2 separate regions of the Homo sapiens genome follow, and region 2 is linked to region 1. A link means that fine-mapping ties the variant in region 1 to the expression of a gene that starts in the linked region. Tissue or cell type: whole blood. Region 1 holds a variant in brackets; the other region holds the start of a gene. All regions are shown on one strand. Distances are from middle to middle.

Region 1 (8,101 bases):
TGATGTGATGATCATGGTGAATATTTAGATGGTACTCACTGTAGGCCAGGCACTGATTTTTGTTTTGTTTGTTTTTGTTTTGTTTTGTTTTTGAGACAGAGTCTCACTTTGTCACCCAGGCTGGAGTGCAGTGGCGTGATCTCGGCTCACTGCAACTTCCGCCTCCCAGGTTCAACCGATTCTTGTGCCTCACCCTCCTGAGTAGCTGAGATTACAGATGTGCACCACCACGCCGGCTAATTTTTGTATTCTTAGTAGAGATGGGGTTTCATCATATTGGCCAGGCTGGTCTTAAACTCCTCACCTCAAGTGATCCACCTGCCTCAGCCTCCCAAAATGCTGGGATTACAGGTGTGAGCCACCATGCCTGGCCTGTTATTTCTCAGTGTAAAGATAAGGGACCTGTGATATTGAGGGGTTAAAGTACTTGCACAGTTTCACTGCTAGTAATCTTGGAGAGCCAAGATCTGAACTCGGGGATCTAGGCCCTTACCCACAACCAACATGCCTAAGTAAGGCAAGGGTGTGGACAGTGCAATGCTTTGTGCTGGAGCAGCAGGTACCAGGCCTCCAGGAGATGAGTCTCCTTCTCTTCACCATGTAACGTACCAAATAACTTTTGTTTCTCGTCCTGCCCCCGAGGAAAGGGCAGTGCCCTCAATGTGCCCTGGTTTGTGCTGCTCCCTCCCTGGTATCCCTGCTTTAGCTCTGGCCACACCAGATGAGTTAGGGGAATCCAGGTGGTGGGAGTGGAAAAATTGGGTTCTCTCGTGGGGAAAGACGAGAGACTCACAGAGGGCACTTCCCCACAGGATGAAAAGTACTGGACAAGACGCAAGAAGAACAACGTGGCAGCTAAACGGTCACGGGATGCCCGGCGCCTGAAAGAGAATCAGATCACCATCCGGGCAGCCTTCCTGGAGAAGGAGAACACAGCCCTGCGGACGGAGGTGGCCGAGCTACGCAAGGAGGTGGGCAAGTGCAAGACCATCGTGTCCAAGTATGAGACCAAATACGGGCCCTTGTAACCCGTGCCCCCCGCCCGGGCGGGGTACTGCCTGCACCTCAGACCTCTGCCTGGGGGCTCCCTGTAACCCCTCACACGCGTGGAGACTTATGACTCGTCGTGGGCGCATGGCGGCGCACCTGCTGCAGGAGCGGCCACGTCTCAGCTTCATTATACCATGGCCTGCGCACGTGGCGACGTCCCTGAGGGGCCAGTCTCCTCACTGGTGGGGAACGCAAGAGAATCTGCGTAGATGGGTGACTCAGCCTTAGTTTCTATTCTTGGATGTCCCAGTTGAATCAGAAGGGGACCTCTGGAGTACACACCTCTCTCCTGGGCGCTCAGGGTCCCTGGACTCTCCCTCAGTCTCCAGCCTGGGCTGCCGAGGGCTATCTCTGCAGAATGAGTTGTGATCATTGTCACCCTATGTCTTCTCAGGTAGCAGGGCGCGTTTCCACTTAAGGTGTGTCTGTCACGCACCTCATTCTCCCCAGACAGTCTTTGAGTAACATCTGTTCCCATCTTCCTTGGAAGCAGGACACACCAGCTCCTCCGTCAGTGTCTGCATGGGTAGCAGGCTGCAGGAGTGGGGTCTCTGCACAGCCTGGGATGGGGCTTGGGGCTGGGGCCTGCAGCAGAAGTGTGCCCAGCGTTTCTCGGCTCCCGCACCCCTTTTCCCTTATGGCTCTGAGGCCATCGGCTGTCTCTGCATTTCATTGGCTGTGGAGGAGAGACTCCTAGGATGGCTGCTGTCTGAGCCATGAGTGCCAGGGCTGAGAGAGGCCTCTTCATTTCCTCTCCAGGCTACTCAGAGGCCATGTGAAGCTCGTTTGTCCCACTAGACCAGGCCTCTGGGCCTGCTCTTTCTTTCCACCCAATGTCCAGTCTTGGATCATAGATTTAAAAGGAAAACCCCTCTTATCTAGGAGGCTTTAACTTCCTGGACCCCAGGATTCACCTTCCTAGTGGTGTTTAGAAAATGCCTCCACAGCCCCCTTCCACCATGGGCATGAGAGCTGGGGTGTGTTTCTTGAGAAGCTCCCTTTTTTCTTGCTCTGCTCACCGGTGTGGCCTGGGCTGGAGTGCACTCTCCCTGGGGGCAGCTGGGGCCTCGCAATTCTTGCTTCAGGATCTCTCCCATGCGAGCTGCCCGGAGGGTGTCAGCAGGGCAAGACACCTAGTCTAGAGTCACCAAGGTCACAGTGCCACTTTCACGGGATAGCAGGCTCTTGGGACTTTTACACAGGCCTAGGGTCCCCTCAGTCTTGGTCCCAGGAGATGGGGGCCACTCGTGAGGCTGGCCATGCTGTGGCTTCTCACAGCTGTGGTCTCCCCTGCCTCACAACGACTCCTTTCTCTTGTGTGGCGGGACTCGCCCTTTTGCTGTGCTCAGAAGATTCACTGAGGAAACTCATGGAAGCCTCTGCTCATTTGGGTCACTGGGACACCCCTGAGATGGGTGTGTTTATTTGCTCAGGGCGGGCAGCCTATGGTGAAGAGGAGACAGAGGCGATGGGCGTGCTTCGTCCTCCGTAACACTGGCTTTATTTACCGTGGTGGTTCAGAGTCCCAGGCCCTGACCTCTAAAGACTTTTCATAACAGACGTTAAGACCAAGCCGTGGACCTCACCCCAGGGGAATGCCACGGCCCTTTGGGGACCTGCACACCCACCTCTCCGGGGGACTTGACAAGGGGCCCTGAGGCCAAGGGAGGTCACTCCTCCCTCCAGGCCCCTGACTTTTACTTTGTGGTTCTCTAAAAACCATGTACACACTTTCACTCTATTGTAACCACACAGGGCAGGCGCATCCAGCATGTCAGTGTCCTGCCCCGGGCAGCTCTCCCTCCCGGGCACGCTCCCTCTGGCCTGGTGGATCACCAAGAGGGCGGTTCTCATTTTGTTATTAGTGGAAGAGCCTTGAGCTTAAAAGCTCTTCATTTTCTTTGCCGGAAAGTATATGGTTTGTGTTTTTGCAGTTTTATTTTTTTAAGGATGGACACTAAATCTCTGGTGTCCATGTTCCGAGCCCGGTGGCTGGGATGGTGGCTCGATGTGTCTCCTCTTTATCCCGCCCTCTGCCTGTTTGGTGCCCTCCCTTCTTTCCCCCAGGCAGTGGGTATCGGGTTCTTTCCCAAAGTGCTTACTTGGAAAGAGTGTGGCTGCTGGACTCTTTTCGAAATGCCCCTCTGAGTCAGGAGCCTGGTGGGGACAAGATGGAGGATGTCCACAGAGGCTGACCTGTGGGGGAAAAGAAGTGCTCAGGTAAGGTTGTCTCCTCTCCTGTCCTAAAAAAATCCATGCTTGCAGGAGAGGGTTGGTGCCTGCTCAGTTTCTGTCGAGGGAATGGGAGTCTCCTCGGCTCCCTCCTGGGCCCTCTGCTTCTTGGAGGCCGACCGCTGGAGACTGCGGCTCCTGTGCTTGGATCTTTGACATCTGTCAGTCACTGGAGGCTAGAGAAGTTGACTTTACCTTGGCTTTCTGTGGGTTCCCGATGGGCTTGGAAGTGCCGTCTACTTCCTAAGCATCCTGTCTAAAGCTTTGTGGCACCCTCAGTGCAACCTCAGAACAGACAAATCATGAATGAGCTGGAACTTTGCAAGAATATTCATATTATAAATGTCTCATCTGATGGAGGAACGTGTGCATTTAGAGAGAGGGAGAGTTTTCAAGGTTTATGGCAACTTTGTGGAGGACCTGGGTAACTCTTACCCTTGGCCAAAGGAAGAGGTTTTCCTGTCTGGCTTCTGAGGTTGGAGGGGGCACTTAGCAGTGAACCTTAAGTCTGGGTACATGTAACCCTGCTGAGGGGCTGTGCAGGCCGCTCCTACGGTCCTTTGGCCTGAGGCAGGGCGG[G/C]AGGCATGCAAGCCAGTGGGGGAAAACCCCTCTGAAGCTGGGCAGCCCTCTACCTGGGCCCCGGGAGCCGTGCTCCTTGGAACGCAAAGGGCCGAGGAGCATCTGGTTTTCATGGCAAAGCTCTACTCCAGAGCTCCTTTAACATCTGCTAATTAAGTGCAATAAATTTTTCTAGAAAATGGCAAAGATGACTTCCAGGTGGATATTGCTCTCTTACGGTGTTGGGGATGCCAGAACACCACTTGGTTTTATTTTTCTAAGTGCATGTGATGTGATAGAGTGTGTGGGGCTCTGTGTCCTTCCCTGGGAGCTGGCATTCCAGCGGGCCCCTCTCTTTACCTTTGTTGGGGGAAGGAGGCAAGAGAGAAATTCCTTCTTCCCAGCCAGAGAGGGCAGAAGCAGACCGTAGCCCATTGGCCTTATGTGCGTGTGTGCGTGCGAGTGTGTCACTGCTGGTGGGCCGGAGTGATGTGGTGGGAGGGAAGCCGGGAATGTATCCTTTTCAGACAAAATTAAATATTTTGAAATGAGAATGTTGGGATTGTCTTTTCTGTCCTTCTCCCCACCCCCAACCCTGAGTTTCCTCTCTTGAGTGTTGGCCTAGGAGCTGGAGAGTCAAGCTGGAAAACTTTTATCTCATTAGAATCCACCCCAGACACCCCCTTCATCACAGTCCAGACACTCTTAGCATCTGACCCCAACCACTCTGCCTCAGTTTCCTCATCTATCAGATGGAAGTGATTCTCGCCTTGCTTATATTGAGGAGGGACAAATATTAGACCAAAAGCAGTTTGAACAGGTAAAGGTGCTACACAACTAGAAGACAGGGAACTGCTTATGACAAGTGTTCTCGAATAGAGAATGCGTGATGGCAGCTCTGTAAAGAAAAGAAAGGGCTGGGCGCGGTGGCTCACGCCTGTAATCCCAGCACTTTGGGAGGCCAAGGCAGGCAAATCACAAAGTCAGGAGTTCGAGACCAGCCTGACCAATATGGTGAAACCCCATCTCTACTAAAAATACAAAAAATTAGCCGAGCGTGGTGGCGGACACCTGTAATCCCAGCTACTCAGGAGGCTGAGGCATGAGAATCGCTTGAACCTGGGATGCAGAGGTTGCAGTGAGCTGAGACCATGCCACTGCACTCCAGCTTGGGCAGCAGAGCGAGACTCCATCTAAAAAAAAAAAAAAAAAAAGGAAAGGACAGGCACGGTGGCTCACGCCTGTAATCCAAGTGCTTTGGGAGGCCGAGGCAGGCAGATCACTTGAGGTCAGGAGTTTGAGTCCGTTTGAGTCCAGCCTGGCCAACATGGTGAAACCCTGTCTCTACTAAAAATACAAAAATTAGCTGGGCATGGTGGTGCAGGCCTGTAATCCCAGCCACTTGGGAGGCAGAGGCTGGAGAGCTGCTTGAACCTGGGAGGTGGAGGTTGCAATGAGCCAAGGTTGCGCCACTGCACTCCAGCCTGGGCGATAGAGCGACACTTGTCTCAAAAACAAAACAAAACAAAACAAAACAAAAAAAACCGAGAGGACTAAAGAGTTGGATCCTCTTGGTGGGACTCTTGAGGGTTTTCCTTTTCTCCTGTTCTTTGGCTATAAAACATTTATAATTTTTTTTGGGGGGGGGGACAGAGTCTTGCTCTGTCACCAGGCTTGAGTGCAGTGGTGGGATCTCGGCTTACTGCACCTCCGCCTCCCGGGTTCAAGCGATTCTCCACCTCAGCCTCCCAAGTAGCTGGGACTAGAGGCGCATGCTGCTACACCCGGCCAATTTTTTGTATTTTTAGTAGAGACAGGGTTTCACCATGTTGGCCAGGCTGGTCTCGAACTCCTGAGCTCAGGCAATCTGCCCGCCTCGGCCTCCCGAACTCAGGCAATCCGCCTACCTCCGGCCTCCCAAAGTGTTGGGATTACTGGCATGAGCTACCACGCCCAGCCTGCAAATATTTCTTTTATATATATATTTTTATTTTTATTTATTTATTTTTGAGACTATCGCTCAGTCACCCAGGCTGGAGTGCAGTGGTGTGATCTCGGCTCACTGCAAGCTCCACCTCCCGGGTTCACGCCATTCTCCTGCCTCAGCCTCCCCCAAGTAGCTGGGACTACAGGTGCCTGCCACCAAGCCCAGTTAACTTTTTTTTTTTTTGATTTTTTAGTAGAGACGGGGTTTCACCGTATCATCCAGGATGATCTCAATCTCCTGACCTTGTGATCGTCCCACCTCGGCCTCCCAAAGTGCTGGGATTACAGGCGTGAGCCAGCGTGCCCAGCCTGGCCAGGCTGGTCTTGAACTCCTGACCTCAAGTGATCCACCCACCTTGGCCTCCCAAAGTGCTGGGATTACAGGTGTGAGCCACCGCGCCTGGCCCCCTCTGTATTTTCTACTCTGCATGCAAATGCGCTCTCTCAAAGCGGAGATCTGTGCAGCCACGGCAAGCACAGGGGCATGGGCTTGAAACATGTCAAAGCTGTGAAATCTCTGTATGTATGGCAGAGCACTGGCTTTGGACTCCGACGGTCCTAGGATCAAACCCTGCCTCCATCACCAATTTGGGGTATGATCGTGGGCAAGTCACTTCCCTTCTCTGGGCTTCCAGTTTCTCACCTGTAGAATGGAACACCAGCGGCCGGGCGGTGGCTTACGCCTGTAATCCCAGCACTTTGGGAGGCCGAGGCAGGTGGATCATGAAGTCAGGAGTTCGAGACCAGCCTGACCAACATGGAGAAACCCTGTCTACTAAAAATACAAAATTAGCCAGGCATGGTGGCACATGCCTGTAATCCCAGCTACTCAGGAGGCTGAGGCAGGAGAATCACTTGAACCCAGGAGGCAGAGGTTGCGGTGAGCCGAGATAGTGCCATTGCACTCCAGCTTGGGCAACAAGGCGAAACTCCATCTCAAAAAAAAAAAAACAAAAGCAAAAACGAACACCAGCTTCATAAGACAGTTGTCCCACGAAGACACCTGGAGCAGGGCAAACACCACTCAGCAGCTGCCATTATGGTGACAGAGAGGAAGGTACGGACCTACATGGAGACCATCACCTCCAGTCCCAGCAGCTGCTGCCCATCGCGGGTTGTCTACCAGCTGGTGTGGGATGCAGCCAGGGTCAGACCAGCTGTGTGGTCTTGGACAACTTATCCATTTCCCTGAGCTGTTTCTCTCTCTGTCCAACAAGGATGCGCTACACAGGTCACATGTGCGTGCCTGACAGCACATCTCGACCCTTCTCCTTCCCCTCCACCCCAGCTCCTTCAAGGACAAATTCCGAAGCTGGACACATGCCCCCTTCCTTTACTGCACCCTATTACCAGACAGCCCTTCACACACTGCCCCGTGGCTGTGCCAGGCTGGCCCAGCTGGCAGCTCCTGACGTCAGCAGCTAATCCGGGAAAGCTGCCAGCCAGAGATAGGGGTGAGCAGCAAAGGAAATCAGAAACAGGTTTTAAGATGGGTGCCCCAACCCCCCAGCCAGCCCTCAGGGAGCTTTCATCAGCCTCTCACTTAAGCAAATCCTCGCAACCATGCGTCCTGATGCCCGGTCCCCTCAGGATTAAGTAAGTGCTGAGCAGGAGGCTTTTATTTTAAGCTGCAGCTCTGTCATCAGGAGCTAGGCACACAGCAAGCCACTGCCTAGCTGTCCCATAGGTTTCTCCAAACAGAGTAGTGGGCGTCCACTCAGGTCTGGATTTCAGGCTGACTCCAGGAAGTCCAGACTACAGGGAGGTAGAGGGGACGGGGCAAAGGTCAAGGATCAGAGGTAGAGGGGACAGGACAAGGGCCTCAGTGTGTTGCCTCCAGCTGGCCCTCCCTCTTAAGGCACAAGGCCCGGTGCACCATTCCTCACTGTTCTTATGTCTTCCCAGCGTACAGCACGCAGGACGGTGCTATGGTTTGAATGTCTCCCCAGAATATATGGGTTGGAAACTTAATCCCTAATGCAATAGTGTTGGGAGGTGGGTCTTAATGGAAGGTGTTTACATCGTAAGGCCTCCACCCTCACGAATGGATATAAAAGAGCTTGAGGTGGCTGGGTGCGGTGGCTCATGCCTGTCATCCCAGCACTTTGGGAGGCTAAGGCGGGCAGATCACCTGAGGTTGGGAGTTCAAGACCAGCCTGACCAACATGGAGAAAGCCCGTCTCTACTAAAAAGACAAAAATTAGCTGAGCGTGGTGGCGCACGCCTGTAATCCCAGCTGCTTGGGAGGCTGAGGCAGGAGAATTGCTTAAACCCG
Region 2 (8,101 bases), 140 kb after region 1:
TCCAGGATCTGGTGATCACCTTCCATTCCTGGATGCACACCCTTTTGCAATGTGACTGCAGTTTCTCCCACCCAGAGGTGAAGTCTATTTCTCCATCCCCTCACCCTAGCCAACGGGATGGAAGCAGAGGCTTGAGAAGTACTTACGCACTGAACTTTGGAACCTTAAAACCGCCAAGCCCAGCCTGGCCTACTGAAAGATGAGACCATGTGGGGCAGAGATGGGCCAGCCCAGCCCAGGCCCCCAGTAACCAACCAGTCTGCCAACCTTCAGAATGTGAGACCGTCCTAGATTGTCCAGCCCCAGGCCAGCCAGATGAGAGGAAAACCACCCAACTGACCGACAGAATAGGGAGAAACAATCCACGCTGATAAGTCACTGAGTGCTCGTTAGGTGCCAAGGCTCTGTCCTAAGAGCTTTCATGTATTAACTCCTTAATCCTCACAATGGTCTTAGAATATAAAATCTATCCTAAACTGCAGTTGACATCCTGAACTGCAACTGACAGATAAGGAAGCAGAGGCACAGAGCAATGACATATTCAGCCAGGACACACAGCTAGTAAGAAGCAGAGCTCAGCTTTTAATCTTGAGGCCACACTCTTACCTACTGTGTCCTACTATCCAAGTCCCCCACCCCCAGCCAGCCTGCTGATCCCCCTTCCGTCTGCTCTCCACAGGCAGCGGGAAGCCCGAGGAATGGACAAGGTGCAGGGCTCAGTAGCAATGAGACCAAAAGGGCACAGACACAGAGCTATGAAGTCAGAGCTGAAGAGGCCTTGAAAACCAACTAGTCCACATCCCAGGCCTCACAGATGAGGGAACAGAGGCCCAGAGAAGAGAAGTCTGCCGCTGTCACCGGGTCAATTCCTGGCCGATTCAGGATGAGGCCCCACGTCTCCCAGCCTCCAGGACTCCCACCACCCTCTGGCCATCTCTTTGACTTTAGCCTTTTAAAATTTTTTCATATTTTATTTATGTATTTAAAGACAGGGTCTTGCTATGTTGCCCAGGCTGGCCTTGAACTCTGTGGCTCAAGAGATCCTTCCGCCCTCAGCCTTACAGGCACGCACCACTGAACCTGGATTTGGCTTGACCTTTGGCTACAGAAAACTGAGCCCCAAGAAGCCCAATGCCCCAGGGACAGAAGATACCCACCTTTGGTGTGTGATGCGCCATCCCCAGGGAATACATAGGCATCCTCCAGTTTGGTGATATCAAACAGACAAATGCAGAGTCCCACGTTGTACACGACCTGCATGCATACAAACACAGACACACAAGTACACATGGATACAGAGTGACCACAGGCCCAGCTCCCAGGCAATCTGAGCCCCTCACAACCACAAGCAAGCCATGATTATCTCCTTTTTTAGGTGAAAATGAGTTTGTGGAGGGGACCAGGGTAAGGAACCTCAGAAGGATGCAGAGCTCTGGAAGGAGCAGGGCCTCGGGTGACAAAACAGGTCCAGGTTCCAAGGCCAGCTCCACCACCCACTGTGTGACTGCCAAGAGGGTCACTTCACCTCTCTGAGCCTCGGTCTCCCCATCTGCAAATGTGAAATACCAGGCTGCAGAGTTATAAAATAAAGAGAGATAACAGATGTGAAGCCCCTAGCCTTGTACCTGGCTCGTGTATTGGAAACCATCATCATCAAGGATCTTTGTTATTACTAGTGAGGACCAGTGACAGGAATGCTGCCTAAACGTGCACTCTCCGACATCCCAAAGCCAATGCCAGAGCTCACAGTTTAGTGAGCGTCACAGCCACAGCTAAACCCCACTGTGCTCACAACATCTCAGACACACAGACGCAGCCACAGGGACTGCAGCTGGCAGAGGGACACAAGACCTAGGCCCCAAGAATGTGCAGAAATCCCATGCCCTCACCCCACACCACTGTGGTTCAAACGACTGGCTACTCAGTGTCTCCTTATCTGCCACCGTGTCATCACCCCCACTTAGAACCCTTGCAAGAACTGTCCAAGAATTAGCAAGAAGCTCAGAGAACTCAGAGTCGTGGCCAGACCTCACCAAGATAATGCCACAAGATCTGTGCCCTTTGTCAGACCATGGATTTCTGTGTGGGCCCCCTCTCAAACGATTCATCTAATCAAATACTAGAAGACTTGTCCCAACAGGACCTCTACCCCAAAGGGACTATATTCCCTTCTTGGACTTTCCACACCTTCTCTCTCAAGGTCCACACCTCCATCCCCCAACAGACCCTCATCTTCAACCTCACAAAGTAACCAGAAGCCATCCACTTAAAGACTCCATGAGTTCCCTTCACTATCTAGCAACCCCCAAATCAACCTCACCTCTTCTGAAGGGACCTGTCTCATGCGTAAAGCCAGCTAAGCATCCTCTTTCTGGCTCCTTCTCAGCCCATCACCTTCTGATGCTCCACGGATAAAGACCAATACCTCAACTCCGACATCCTACAGGGCTGTGTGGCCTGGCCCCCACCCACCTGTCCAGCCCACCCTCCCCTCTGCCCAAGCCACACCAGCCTCTTCCACACCATGGTGGGTATTTTACCCCTTCTTCTTTTTTTTTTGAAGCGAAGTTTCACTCTTGTCACCCAGGCTGGAAGGCAGTGGTGCGATTTCAGCTCACTGCAACCTCTGCCTCCTGGGTTCAAGTGATTCTTCTCCCTCTGCCTCCCAAGTAGCCGGGATTACAGGTGCCTGCCACCATGCCCAGCTATTTTTTGTATTTTTAGTAGACATGGGGCTTCACCATGTTGGACAGGCTGGTCTCAAACTCCTGACCTTGGGTGATCCACCCGCCTCAGCCTCCCAAAGTGGTGGGATTACAGGTGTGAGCCCCCACGCCCGGCCTGTATTCCTTCTTCACAGGGCCTTTGCACATGCCAGTTCCTGCCTTCAGGGCTCTTCTCTCCACCCAGCCCCCTCCCACCCTAGAAAGGAATCCTCTGGTTGGCTCCACTTCACCATCAGATCTCACCTTCAACCCCACCTCCTCAACAAAGCTGCAGGTCCCCTCATTCCAGGGGACGTTCCTTTGTTCCACAGGTGTGTGAACACCTGTCCCTCATAACATTTACCTCAATTTGTCACCAAACACTCAACTGTGGACCCTTCTCATTCATATCTGCTTTCCCACCACACTATAGCACAGAGCCTTGTCTCTGTTTCATTCATTCAGTCAACAAATGGCCGGGCACGGTGGCTCACACCTGTAATTCCAGCACTTTGGGAGGCTGAGGCAGGCAGATCACCTGAGGTCAGAAGTTTGAGACCAGCCTGGCCAACATGGTGAAACCCCGTCTCTACTAAAAGTACAAAAATTAGCCAGGTGTGGTGGCAGGTGCCTGTAATCCCAGCTACTCAGGAGGCTGAAGCAGAAGAATAGCTTGAACCTGGGAGGTGGAGGTTGCAGTGAGCCAAGATCGCTTCATTGCACCCCAGCCTGGGCGACAAGAGCGGCACTCTTGTCTCACACACACAAACACAAAACAGAAAATTATGGGACATCTACTCCCGCCAGGCTTTGGCTAAATGAGGGGATACTTCAGGGAAGAAGGCAGATAAGGTCCCTGCTCTCAAGGAGAGGGAAAGGAAAAAGTCTAAGAAGGAAAGAGAGTGATGTGACACAGAATACCTGGAAAGGGAGGACTGTCAAAGAAACGGCAGTGGGAAGACCTCTCAGCTGGTACTAAGGCACACAGGCACAGCACAGAGAAGGCGCACAAATATTGGCTGCTGGAATGAAGGGATGAACCTCCTGACAGTTAATTCTGTACTACTAGAACTCTCCATCTTCACGAAAACAATGCATTGACCCGAGGCGATGGCGCACACCTGTAATCCCAGCACTTTGGGAGGCCGAGGCGGGGGGATCAAGAGATCGAGACCATCCTGGCCAAAATGGTGAAACCCCGTCTCTACGAAAAATACAAAAATTAGCTGGGGGTGGTGGCGCGCGCCTGTAGTTGTCCCAGCTACTCGGGAGGCTGGGGCAGGAGAATCGCTTGAACCCGGGAGGCGGAGGTTGCAGTGAGCCGAGATCGCGCCACTGCACTCCAGCCTGGACGAAAGAGCAAGACTCCGTCTCAAAAACAAAAAACAAAACAAAACAAAACAAACAACAACAACAACAAAAACAATGCATGGCTGGAAGGACAGCAATATTTTATCCCCATTTTAAAAATGGAAACTGAGGCCCAGAAGGGGTCAGTAACTTGCCTGCAATTGCAAAGTAATTTAGAATTGTGGAATCTAACACTTCCAGTTACAACTCCCTTTTTCAAGCCCATTTTCTTTTGATCCCCTTCAATATCTCCTTTCACGGTGAAGAAAAGTTCTGAGACATTAAGCTGCTTGCCCACGGCCAGGGCTTGGCATGACCGAGGCCGGGCCTGCGGCCAGTGGGCGGCGCTCGCTCTCCCACGCCAAGGCCTGCCCGCGAGCCGTGGGCCCAGTACCTTGTTGGCCAACTTCTTGTTCAGCTCCTCGGCAATGGAGTCGTTGAGCTTCCTCTCAAACTGCCAAGGGGGGATCCGGACGGTGTCCACCATTTCCACCAGGACGAACATCCCGGCCTGCGCTGGGGGCTCTGGGAACAGGAGGGTCAGTCACGCACCAGGGCCGGGGGCAGGGAGAATCCCCGAGCCCCTTGGTCCCGTCCCAGTCGCTGAGGCCCCCAGGCTGGCGGTGAGGTTGCACGGGGCGGTCTCGGGGGCCCGGTCCGGGCCATGCTCCGCTACTACAACATGAGGAAACTGAGGCCAGAGGGAGGCACTCTCCGTCCACAGCTCCGGGTGCGCGCCCGCGCCGCGAGACCCCGCCACGCCACGCCACTCCACGCCACGCCACTCCACGCCCCGCACCCGCGCCACGTGCCGCCGCTCGTATCACGCACCACGCACCACGCACCGCGCACAGCCGCTCGCGCTTGCGCGACTGCGGGCGAGATTCCGAATCCATCGCTTCCGGAAAACTCACCAATAAGAAACCTCTGTCCACCCCCACCCCGCCGAGGCGGGGCGGGGCTGCCTGTGTGCTCGCGCACAGCGTGGGGCAGAGAGAGGGCGAGGAGAGGGCGGGGCCTCCTCCTTTCACAGGAGCAGAGCGGTTCCCCCGCCCCCGACAGCGCTTTCTGTTGCTAGGCGACCTCCGTGCAATCCCGCCTGATTATCCCTCGCCTGGCCTGTGCTTTACCCGCATTGCTGTCCTCTGCTCGGCAGCCAGAGTGATCCTTTGGAAACGCAAACATATATTACCACATCTAAGTTAAAAAAAAAACCCACCGCAAACATAACATGCTTAGCACCCTTAAGTGTTCCGGAGACAAGGAGAATTAGCAGGAAAGGGGCACTTGGGACTGTTCTGAGATGATGGAAATGTTCTGTATTTTGTTTTCGGTGGTATAACATTGACGTATATAATTGTCCAAACTAATTGAACTCGGCAAGATTTTTGCATTTATTTGTAGACATTATGTTCCAATTGAAAAGTTATAATAAATTGGAACAAAAAACACAACCCATTGAACTTAGAATACTAGATCCAAGCCGGGCGTGGTGGTGTACACCCGTAGTCCCACCTACTCAGAAGCCTGAGACAGCAGCATCGCTTGAGTCCAGGAGTTTGAGGTTGCAGTTTGAGGTTGCATGCTGCACTCTAGCATGGGTGACAGTGACACCTCATGTCTAAACGAAAAAGAAGAAGAAGGAGAGGCGGAAGAAGAAGAAAGAAGAAGGAGAAGAAGAAGAAGAAAGAAGAAAGAAAAGGGAAAGAAGAAAGAAAAGAAGAAAGAAAGAAGAAAAGTCCAAAACCTTTATGGTAGTTCACACGGCCCTGCAAGATCTGACCATACCCCCCTCCTATAGCCCCATCATGCTCTGTCTCGCTGACATTCCAGTCTCATTCATCTTCACGTGATAGCATGGGCTAAGAGAATTTGGTAGCTTACCCAAGATCACGTGTTGACAAGTGGTAGAGGTGGGCCCAGTCTGAACCTCACTACCCTGCCTCTAAAAATTGGTGGGGTGTAGATGTATACTGTAGTGGGTTTTTTTGTTTGTTTGTTTGTTTGAGACGGAGGATCGCTCTGTCGCCCAGGCTGGAGTGCAGTGGCGCGATCTTGGCTCACTGCAAGCTCCGCCTCTCGGGTTCACGCCATTCTCCTGCCTTAGCCTCCCGAGTAGCTGAGACTACAGGCGCCCACCATCACGCCTGGCTAATTTTTCGTATTTTTTTTTAGTAGAGACGAGGTTTCACCGTGTTAGCCAGGATGGTCTCGATCTCCTGACCTCATGATCTGCCCACCTCAGCCTTCCAAAGTGCTGGGATTACAGGTGTGAGCCACCGCGCCCGGGCTTGTAGTGTGTTTTAACCAAAATAACAATTTAGGTACTTACAAAAGATACTTGGGGTAAATGACAGAGGCACTTGGAAATGTATGGTGCCTTAATTTGCTGATTTCACAAGCATAGTGATCTCTCAGTGACACTGGCTGCAGTGATGCTAAATGTGGCCTTCCCTGCATCTATGATTTTATTTTTAGGTGTGCTTCTATAGGATTTGAGGTACTTGAGGACAGCAGCAAATGCTACTTCAGCTCTTTATTCCCACAATCCCCTAACACATTCCTAGGAAGCATTGAGTAAAGGTGTTTAGGGATTACCATTAATTCTTCCTCTCAAATGTTTCCTCTTCATTCCACTCCCACTGCTATTGCTTCGGTTCAGGCCTTTTCTTTTTTTTTTCTTTTGAGACGGAATCTTGCTCTGTCGCCCAGACTGGAGTGCAGTGGCATGATCTCAGCTCAATGCAACCTCCACCTCCTGGGTTCAAGCGATTCTCCTGCCTCAGCTTCCCAAATAGCTGGAATTACAGGTGCCCACCACCACACTTAGCTAACTTTTGTATTTTTAGATAAGATTTCACCATGTTGGCCAGGCTGGTTTCGAACTCCTGACCTCAGGTGATCCCCCCCATCTTGGCCTCTCAAAGTGCTGAGATTACAGGCATGAGCCACCGTGACTAGCCAATATCTGGTCATTTAAAAGTATGTGGCGGGGCCAGGCGTGGTGGTTCACACCTGTAATCCCATCACTTTGGGAGGCCGAGGTGGGTGGATCACAAGGTCAGGAGATTGAGACTATCCTGGCTAACACGGTGAAACTCTGTCTCTACTAAAAATACAAAAAAAAAAAAAAAAAAAAAAAAGTAGCCGGGCGTGGTGGCACGCGCCTGTGGTCCCAGCTACTTGGGAGGCTGAGGCAGAAGAATCACTTGAACCCGGGAGGCAGAGGTTGCAGTGAGCTGAGATCACACCACTGCACTCCAGCCTGGCGACAAAGTGAGACTCCGTCTCAAAAAAAAAAAGTGTGTGGTGGCCAGGCGTGTGGCTCATGCCTGTAATCCCAGCACTTTGGGAGGCCAAGGTGGGCGGATCACCTGAGGTCAGGAGTTCAAGACCAGCCTGACCAACATGGAGAAACCCCGTCTCTACTAAATACAAAATTAGCCGGGCGTGGTGGCGCATGCCTGTAATCCCAGCTACTCAGGAAGGCTGAGGCAGAAGAATCGCTTGAACCCAGGAGGTGGCGGTTCTGGTGAGCAGAGATCGCGCTATTGTACTCCAGCTTCGGCAACAAGAGCAAAACTCCATCTTGAAAAAAAAAGTGTGTAGCACCTCCCTCCTCCCACTCTCTCTCTTGCTCCTCTTTTCCCCATGTGATGTGCCTGCTCCTCCTTTGATTTCCGATATCATGGGAAGCTTCCCGAGGCATCCCTGGAAGCTGAGCCTATGCCAGTACCATGCTTGCTGTAAAGCCTGTGGAACCATGAGCCAACTAAACCTATTTTTTTTTTTTTGAGACGGATTCTTGCTCTGTCGCCCAGGCTGGAGTGCAGTGGCATGATCTCGGCTCACTGCAAGCTCCACCTCCCGGGTTCATGCCATTCTCCTGCCTCAGCCTCCCAAGTAGCTAGGACTACAGGCACCCGCTACCACGCCCAGCTAGTTTTTTGTATTTTTAGTAGAGATGAGGTTTCACCGTGTTAGTCAGGATGGCCTCGATCTCCTCACCTCATGATCCACCCGCCTTGGGCTCCCAAAGTGCTGGG

The links. PIP is the estimated chance that this variant, and not a neighbour inherited with it, causes the effect.
Region 2: it holds the start of POLR3H, and the variant in region 1 is fine-mapped to the expression of POLR3H in whole blood (TOPMed, PIP above 0.99).

What each region holds. Positions count from the first base shown.
Region 1 is chr22:41,394,933-41,403,033 of GRCh38, forward strand. TEF (TEF transcription factor, PAR bZIP family member) reads left to right here. Exons shown (of 4, transcript NM_003216.4): 4 at 813-4,394. The coding sequence ends at 1,028. Among named protein-coding and RNA genes, the nearest start is that of TEF, 17 kb to the left of the region's middle. RefSeq lists an enhancer at 7,536-7,680 and a cis regulatory region at 7,602-7,615. The variant G/C (reference allele first, on the strand shown) is at 3,862.
Region 2 is chr22:41,539,542-41,547,642 of GRCh38, forward strand. POLR3H (RNA polymerase III subunit H) reads right to left here and starts at 4,929. Exons shown (of 6, transcript NM_001018050.4): 1 at 4,450-4,929; 2 at 1,158-1,254. The coding sequence starts at 4,560. RefSeq lists enhancers at 4,290-5,127, 4,450-4,549, 4,560-4,649 and silencers at 4,700-4,829, 5,020-5,119.